2 linked regions of the Homo sapiens genome follow. The protein of the gene in region 1 purifies or fractionates together with the protein of each later gene. This does not show direct contact. Each region holds a gene or a part of one and is shown on either strand. Other genes may lie near its edges.

Region 1 (3,828 bases):
TTATAAAGTTAGGCTGGAAGAGAGGAGTTTCATACAGTGCCTTATGTCTGGAGTAAACCAGAATTTGGAGACAAATTTTGTGGGGATGGGCCTTACATTCCTAGCTTGTGAAGTAGCACCTATACCAAGCATTCCTATATTGCTGGTCTGTGTGTGGTATATACCTATGTTCTGAATTTCTCCTGCCGTTGCCCTTATAGGCTGACTTGGCAATACTTTGATTAGATATTAGATACAAAAATATTTTCATTAGTGTCTCTTTCCATTACTTACTGTCCCCTCTTCTTTCTCAGGAGCAAACCATGTTTCAAATGGTATGCTCTGCCCGTTTGATTCACTCTTTTTCTGTTGTGACCCTCCCTACAGCAGGGTGGTCTAACCTGCCTTAATGACACTAGCTGCAACAGTGAGAGAAACATGAGGATTTAGGCTCAGGCTGCTTTCTCTGAGACGCATGTTTTAGGTCAAAGGCCAGAGATTTGGTTTTTGGTCAGAAGTATGTAAATGACTAATATGGTTTGGCTGTGTGTCCCTACCCACATCTCACCTTAAATTATAATAATCCCCACGTGTCAAGGGCAGGACCAGGTGGAGATAATTCAGTCATGGGGGAGGTTTCTGCCATGCTGTTCTCCTAATAGGGAGTAAGTTCTCACGAGATCTGATGGTTTTATAAGGGTTCCCCCTTCGCTCTCATTCTTTCTCCTGCAGCCTCGTAAAGAGGTGCATTCCGTCATGATTGTTAGTTTCCTGAGGCTTCCCCAGCCATGCCAAACTGTAAGTCAATTAAACCTCTTTTCTTTATAAATTACCCAGTCTCGGGTATGTCTACATAGCAGCGTTGAGAATGGACTAATACAATGATGCAGCACCATCCCATATGATCTTGAGTGGTGCTTTTGGATTGTGGTAGAGGGTGCTGTATCCTTATGAAGGTGAATTTCTTTTAACAGAGCAGTGCACACTCAGAATTTTGGTGAGTTCAGGTTGTAATTTCAAGTTTTGCAGATGCGCCTAGTTCCGTTCCTAGCATGTATAGCTCCTGTAAAGTCTCTGGTTAGTCTTTTCACAGAAGGCTTGAGAGTATATTACTCTGTGTAAGAGGTTTTATCATAGTTATAGATTTATGTTGTTACTCTAATAAATATTGAAGAGATTAGTGCAGATGAATGAGTATAATCCTGGAAATGTATGATTATAACATTATATTTAGGAGGAATCTATTATGTAGGTGATGTATCACATGCATAGCCCCAGAATTTACTGAGGCTCTGTTTTAAAGATGATTGACCTCAAAGTGAAGTACCTCCTAAAAAGGGGGCATCTAGTGGCATTTACACTGATAGAGGGAGATGGAAACAAAGTCTTTTGCACTCTGTGCAAAAGATTGTTTAAGAAGCTGTAAGGCATGCATATAGAGCCAAGGTAGTTTCTTAATATTGAATCTCACACCATAAGTCTTCCTGTAGGGCAAGACCCATACAAGGAACTGGTTCTTGCCATCTAAGATTTGATATCTTTGGAATGAAGAGATCTAAATCCAAATCACTGGTCTGACAACGTGAAGTAGTCTAGGATGGATCTTCACTTGGCTGACTGCTATATTAGCTCCTCACATACTGCCCCATTACACACTGTTCCTAAGGCTTTGCGGGTATTCCTAGCATGAAAGAGCCTAGAGCTGGTACTCTCATTTTCCAGCTCTGCTCTTCTCCAGGCTGTCACAGTTCCTGCCTCCTCACTTGTTCTTCACACTGAGGTGATAAGTGACAAGAGGTTTATTTTCACAAAGTGAAGACTTATTGGGTCTAGTAAGTCTCTTTCCGGTGTTAGTGACCTGCTCTGTTCCCGGGCTGGCACTAACTAACTGACTGATAGATGACTCTGACAGGTCCCAGTATAACCCCTTCATTAACCTGCTGGGCGGGTGTCATGTTTGCTTGTAACTTTTGCCACTGGGTATCTAGAGTCCTGAAAGTGTAAGACTTAGGATGGAAATGATTTGTTGGTTGTGCACAGGGCCATGGTAAGCCCTGGGTGGCCAGAGACATCAGGCTGAAAGAGCTAGGGTAAGAGTGATTGGGCATCTGGTTCAGGCCTTCTTGAGAGGGAATACTTTGGGAAAGGATGTTTAGTGATTTTCCCTTCTTTGCCTGGGTCTGTCCTTGCAGAAGGAGTTTAGTTTTTGCTATTCCTGACCACCACTATCAGCAGCATCATCGTGTAATGAATGTTTGACTCTTTGGCAGCTCAGCTGGTGTCATTCCTGAGCAGGTGCAAAGAAGACAGTGGTTAGAAGGCCTCAGGAAGCACCTAAATATCTATGATTTTAGTTGAGAGACCTACTATCTATTTAATCTTTCTTTTCATAATATTTGGGTAACTGAAGGTTATCTATATTTCAAATATAATTCAAATACACACTAAATTTCTAAAAGCCACCCTCCAGAATATGAACAGATTAACCTCTCATTAAACATCCAGGTAGAAACAAGGCCTCTTGGCTGGGTGTGGTTGTGCATGCCTGTAATCCCAGCACTTTGGGAGGCTGAGGCGGGCAGATTGCTTGAGTTCAGGAGTTTGAGACTACCCTGGGCAACATGGCAAGACCCTCATCTCTACAAATATATGAAAATTAGCTGAGTGTGGTGTGGCATGTGCCTGTAGTCCCAGCTACTCAGGAGGCTGAGATGACAGGAAGATTGGAGCCCAGGAGGTCAAGGCTGCAGTGAGCCATGTTGATGAAAGGCCTCTTATATGGAAAATCATCTGGTCAAAAGTTCCCATTTTAAAAATGAGGGAGCCATCTCCCAGAGAAGTGAAATGAATCACTCTAGGATTCATGGCTGGTTATTGACAGAGCTAGGAGGTAAAGTGGTTTCTTGACTTCCAGATTTTCTATGATGCCACAATGCGCTACCAACCAACTAGTTAATGAGGATTGGAGCCGCGATTATATGGCTGGGGTTCTCCAGTATGGCATCCCCACTTCCTCCCCTCCAGGTACATGGTAAGCAGAGAGCATCACACCTGAGCAGCATTCTTACTCAGCTCAACAGCAATATCTGAGCCTGAGTTTCCCATTCCAATCACCAGGATGCGTTTTCCCTCAAATCCATCTGGATGCTTGTATTGGCGGCTATGGAAATATTGGCCTTTGAACCTCTCCATACCTTCAGGGGGAAGAAGAGAGAAGTCTGTGAGCTCCAGAGCAACTATGTCAAGCTAATTTCAATAAAACTGCATTGCCAGCTTTTCCTTTCTGGAGTTAATAATTTGTTTTGCCTCTTCTCTATAGGAGTAAAGCACATAAGAAAGTTTAGGTACCAGACCAGGTGGGGCCTGTAATCCCAGCCCTTTGGGAGGCCTAGGCAGGTTGATTGAGCCCAGGAGTTTGAGACCAGCCTGAGCAGCATAGTGAAACCCTGTATCTACAAAAAATACAAAAATTAGCTGGGCATGGTTGTGCATGCCTGTGGTCCCAGCTACTCGGGTGACTGAGGTGGGAAGATTGCTTGAGCTTGGGAAGTAAAGAATGCAGTGACCCCTGATTGAGTCACTGCACTCCAGTCTGGGTGACAGAGTGAGACTGTCACAACACCAAAACAAAACAAAAAACAAACAAAAAAACAGGACCAAAGGGGTTGATTTTTTATTTCAGAGGCTGCAGCTTACGGCTGCAGTTTGTCTCTATCAGAGACAAATAAATGGTGATGAACACAGCAGGACCAGATACTGTCTTCTGCCTGCCTATTATATACTATTTTGGACTATATAATGACATTTGACCCTTTAATATCACATATTAGGCAAGGTGTGGTGGCTCAC
Region 2 (3,828 bases), on another chromosome or scaffold:
GGGAAAGCAGACCTGCTAAGGAAATGCAGTTGAAGGCTCATTGAGATTTGCAGTCATGAATTTAAAGTGAAACCCATTGGCATAGCTGGGTGATTTTTCACCCTAGTTTCAGTTAGGTTAAGAAGGTAATAGGAACCATCAGGAGACAGGGTTATAGGGGATTTTGTTGATGACAGGCTATGATTCCCCAGAGGGAAGAGGTGTGGAAGGCAAGGAAGGTTGAGATACTGAGTTGGATTAGAGAACTATAGATAATGATGGGAATATAGCAAGACCCCATTCTCCACAAAAAGGAAGAAAAAAGAAAGATAATGATGGCAATAAGGACGTGGGTAAAGATGCATAGCCTCAGAGACAGGGAGGGCAACAGGAATCTAACTTAGCCATAATGGGATTAGTCCTACTAGGGTATAATAGGAAGGACAGAAGGAAGCAGTTAGTTCCAGCTGTAGTGTAGATACCAGCCAGCCACATGTGGCTACTGGGCACAAATTGGGATATCCAGCAAATAAGGCTTGGTGCAAAAATAAATAAATAAATAAATAAAATATTTCAATGATTTTTATATTGATTACATACTAAGGTGATAATATTCGGATATATTAGGTTACATAAACTGTATTATTAAAAATAATTTCATTCTGTATGTGGCTTCTAGAAAATTTAAAAATTACATACATGACTTGTGTTACATCTGTACTGGACAGCCCTTGGTCTACAATATTTTGTGGGAAGTTAAGGAGCCTCTGGACCACTGCTCTTTCCTGTGGGGAGGTGGGGGGCGGAAATCTCTCCGTAGCCTAACGTCTAGTTGCCTTTGCATTTTGGGGTTGTTTTTTACCCCTGTATAAATTAATTTGCATTTGTTACCACTGGATTTTGTTTTAGAAAGCTTTTTTCTACTCAATTCTAATACATCAATATTTTAACTTTTATCACATTTATTTTAATGCAAACCACCCCCACAAAATTAAATACCAACTGATCTCCTCACTGTTGTTCTACCAGATTACTATAGGTCATACTTTCCAACCTTTGGATCCTGTTTTGGAAAGGGATCCTGTAATTTGGCTTTAAACCATTTAAAAATAATCAAGCCATGTTTATGTTGTAGTTGTTTTCCTTACACACCAGATGCAACACCAAAGTTTAGGGCTTTTCCTTACCACCTTAAATTGCTTCATGAAAGGTAATAGGTAGGCACTCTTGCTACCACTTTTCACTTAATGAAACAGATCCATAGAAATTATAAAGTATTTTCATGCCAGAAGACAAGTTCTTACTCCTCAACTCTTACGCTTTGATCTCAGAATATTTACTGCACTAGGAGTAATTCCAAATATGACACTTTAAGCAGATCATATTTTATTATCATAGAAAGGTTTACAAATGTATGTTCTCATGTGCTTTGGACCAGAGTTTTTAACGTTGCACAATGAAAATAGCAAAAGCATAAATCAAATCTTATTAATCTTTGGAAAAAGTGTATAAATATATTAATGCAAAAGCATCTGCAAACTGACCAGTTATACCAACCCCATAAATTATCCAGTTTATAAAATTTTCCAGTCTATAACATTTTCACATGATAGTATCTCTAGTAATTATGTGTCCGAGAAATCAGTGGCAAAATCCCCAAAAGTTACACAAATTTGCTTTAGCTAACATTTATAGATATGGTAGAGGTTTTATATTATAACAATAATATAACATAAAGTTACTATAATTGTTACTATTTCTTTAAAAAACACCAAATAATGATCAAGCTGGGACCTTTGTTTAACAATTAAAAATAGTTTGCTATTTTTAGCCAAGCTTAGGTTTGCTGTACCAATTTACAGGGCATTGCTTACTCTTTTTTTTTTTGAGATGGAGTCTCGTTCTGTCACCAAGCTGGAGTGCAGTGACGCAATCTCGGCTCACTGCAACCTCCGCCTCCCGGGTTCAAGCGATTCTCCTGCCTCAGCCTCCTGAGTAGCCGGGACTACTGGTGTGTGCCACCATGCCTGGCTAATTTTTTGTATGTTTAGTAGAGACGGGGTTTCACCGTTTTAGCCAGGATGGTCTCAATCTCCTGACCTCGTGATCCACCTGCCCTGGCCTCCCAAAGTGCTGGGATTACAGGCGTGAGCCACTGTGCCCGGCCCTGCTTACTACTTTTAACTTTAAAAATCACACTAGTGCCCTAAATTTATGTGACAAAGCCAGGATCCTAGGCTGGGTAGAGATTCTGGTTAAAAAGTTGTTAGACTGATTCTTGCTCTACCTCAGAGGCCTCAGCTTCACGTAATATACCTGTTGACCTCACCTTTTCAGACCTAAAGATATAAGCTAAAATAAACTATTTCTTGAGGTTCTCCATATTTGATGAGAATACGAACATTCATACATGTATCAAATCTTCTGAAACTCCATCTTTCCTTCATTAACTGTTATGGATGGATAAGTGTAAGAGATGAGTTTAACAAATGTGTGATGTATTTACAATTATTTTTTTCAAAAATATATTCATCTAGGTGGCCCATATCCGAGCAGAAAGAGATATTTTGGTAGAAGCAGATGGTGCCTGGGTGGTGAAGATGTTTTACAGTTTTCAGGATAAGAGGAATCTTTATCTAATCATGGAATTTCTCCCTGGAGGTAAAAGCAAACATTGTATCAATGACAGACTGATACAAGCACATCTTTATATGCAACAATAATTTTATTGGTGAGGTTTACTTTTATATTCTTTGCTCTGAGGCTTTACATAGTCACAGTTTAAAAATATTTACTACCATATTGATGCTCATTTTTACCACAAAACAGATTGTTTTGAAGGAATTATAAAGTTAGCACATTTTAAATATTACCGTTCTGGGTTCACTGTATATAATTAGGTTGTTATAAGTTGTGTTAGTTTATTTTATGTTGTTACAAAAAATACCTGAGACTGGATGGGCGCAGTGGCTCACGCCTGTAATCCCAGCACTTTGGGAGGCCGAGGCGGATGGATCACGAGGTCAGGAGATCAAGACCATCCTGGCTAACAAGGTGAAACCCCGTCTCTACTAAAAATAAAAAAAATTAGCTGGGCGCAGTGGCGGGCGCCTGTAGTCCCAGCTACTTGGGAGGCTGAGGCAGGAGAATGGTGTGAACCCGGGAGGCGGAGCTTGCAGTGAGCCGAGATAGCGCCACTGCAGTCCGGCCTGGGCGAAAACAGCGAGACTACGTCTCAAAAAAAAAAAAAAAAAATACCTGAGACTGTGTAATTTATAAAGGAAAGAGGTTTAATCATTGCTCAGCAAAGAGGGCAAGGGGAAAAGAATGGCAATGGAGGGCAAAGAATTCTGGGTTTTGTTTTGTTTTGTTTTAATTTTTATTTTTTGAGATGAAGTCTCGCTCTGTTGCCTAGGCTGGAGTGCAGTGGTGTGATCTTGGCTCACTACAACCTCTGCCTCCCGGGTTCAAGCGATTCTCCTGTCTCAGCCTCCTGAGTAGCTGGGATTACAGGTGCCCACCACCATGCCCAGCTAATTTTTTTTGTATTTAGTAGAGACGGGGTTTCACCATGTTGGTCAGGCTGGTCTCAAACTCCTGACCTCAAGTGATCCACCCACCTCAGCCTCCCAGAGTGTTGGGAATACAGGCGTGAACCACTGCCCCTGGCTCCCTATTTTTTTTAAAGCCTCAAAAAATATATGAAAAAAATGTAATCAGTTGTCAATTCTGTGTTGTAAGTGCACCAGTGTTTACAACAGTTAAAACTGTTAAAACTTTTAAAATTCCTTGAAAATAAAAGAATGTCTGCAGGTGCCTTTTTTAGTGGGATAATGTCCCACTAAACTC

What was found.
Region 2: the proteins of FMO2 (region 1) and STK38L purify together in Homo sapiens (affinity purification with mass spectrometry; one large-scale study listed by BioGRID and IntAct). This does not show direct contact.

What each region holds. Positions count from the first base shown.
Region 1 is NC_000001.11:171,198,691-171,202,518, reverse strand, and holds part of FMO2 (flavin-containing monooxygenase 2), read right to left. Parts: intron 3,174-3,828; coding exon 3,031-3,173; intron 1-3,030. UniProt on the Homo sapiens protein: Catalyzes the oxidative metabolism of numerous xenobiotics, including mainly therapeutic drugs and insecticides that contain a soft nucleophile, most commonly nitrogen and sulfur and participates to their bioactivation.
Region 2 is NC_000012.12:27,310,033-27,313,860, forward strand, and holds part of STK38L (serine/threonine-protein kinase 38-like), read left to right. Parts: intron 1-2,516; coding exon 2,517-2,640; intron 2,641-3,828. UniProt on the Homo sapiens protein: Involved in the regulation of structural processes in differentiating and mature neuronal cells.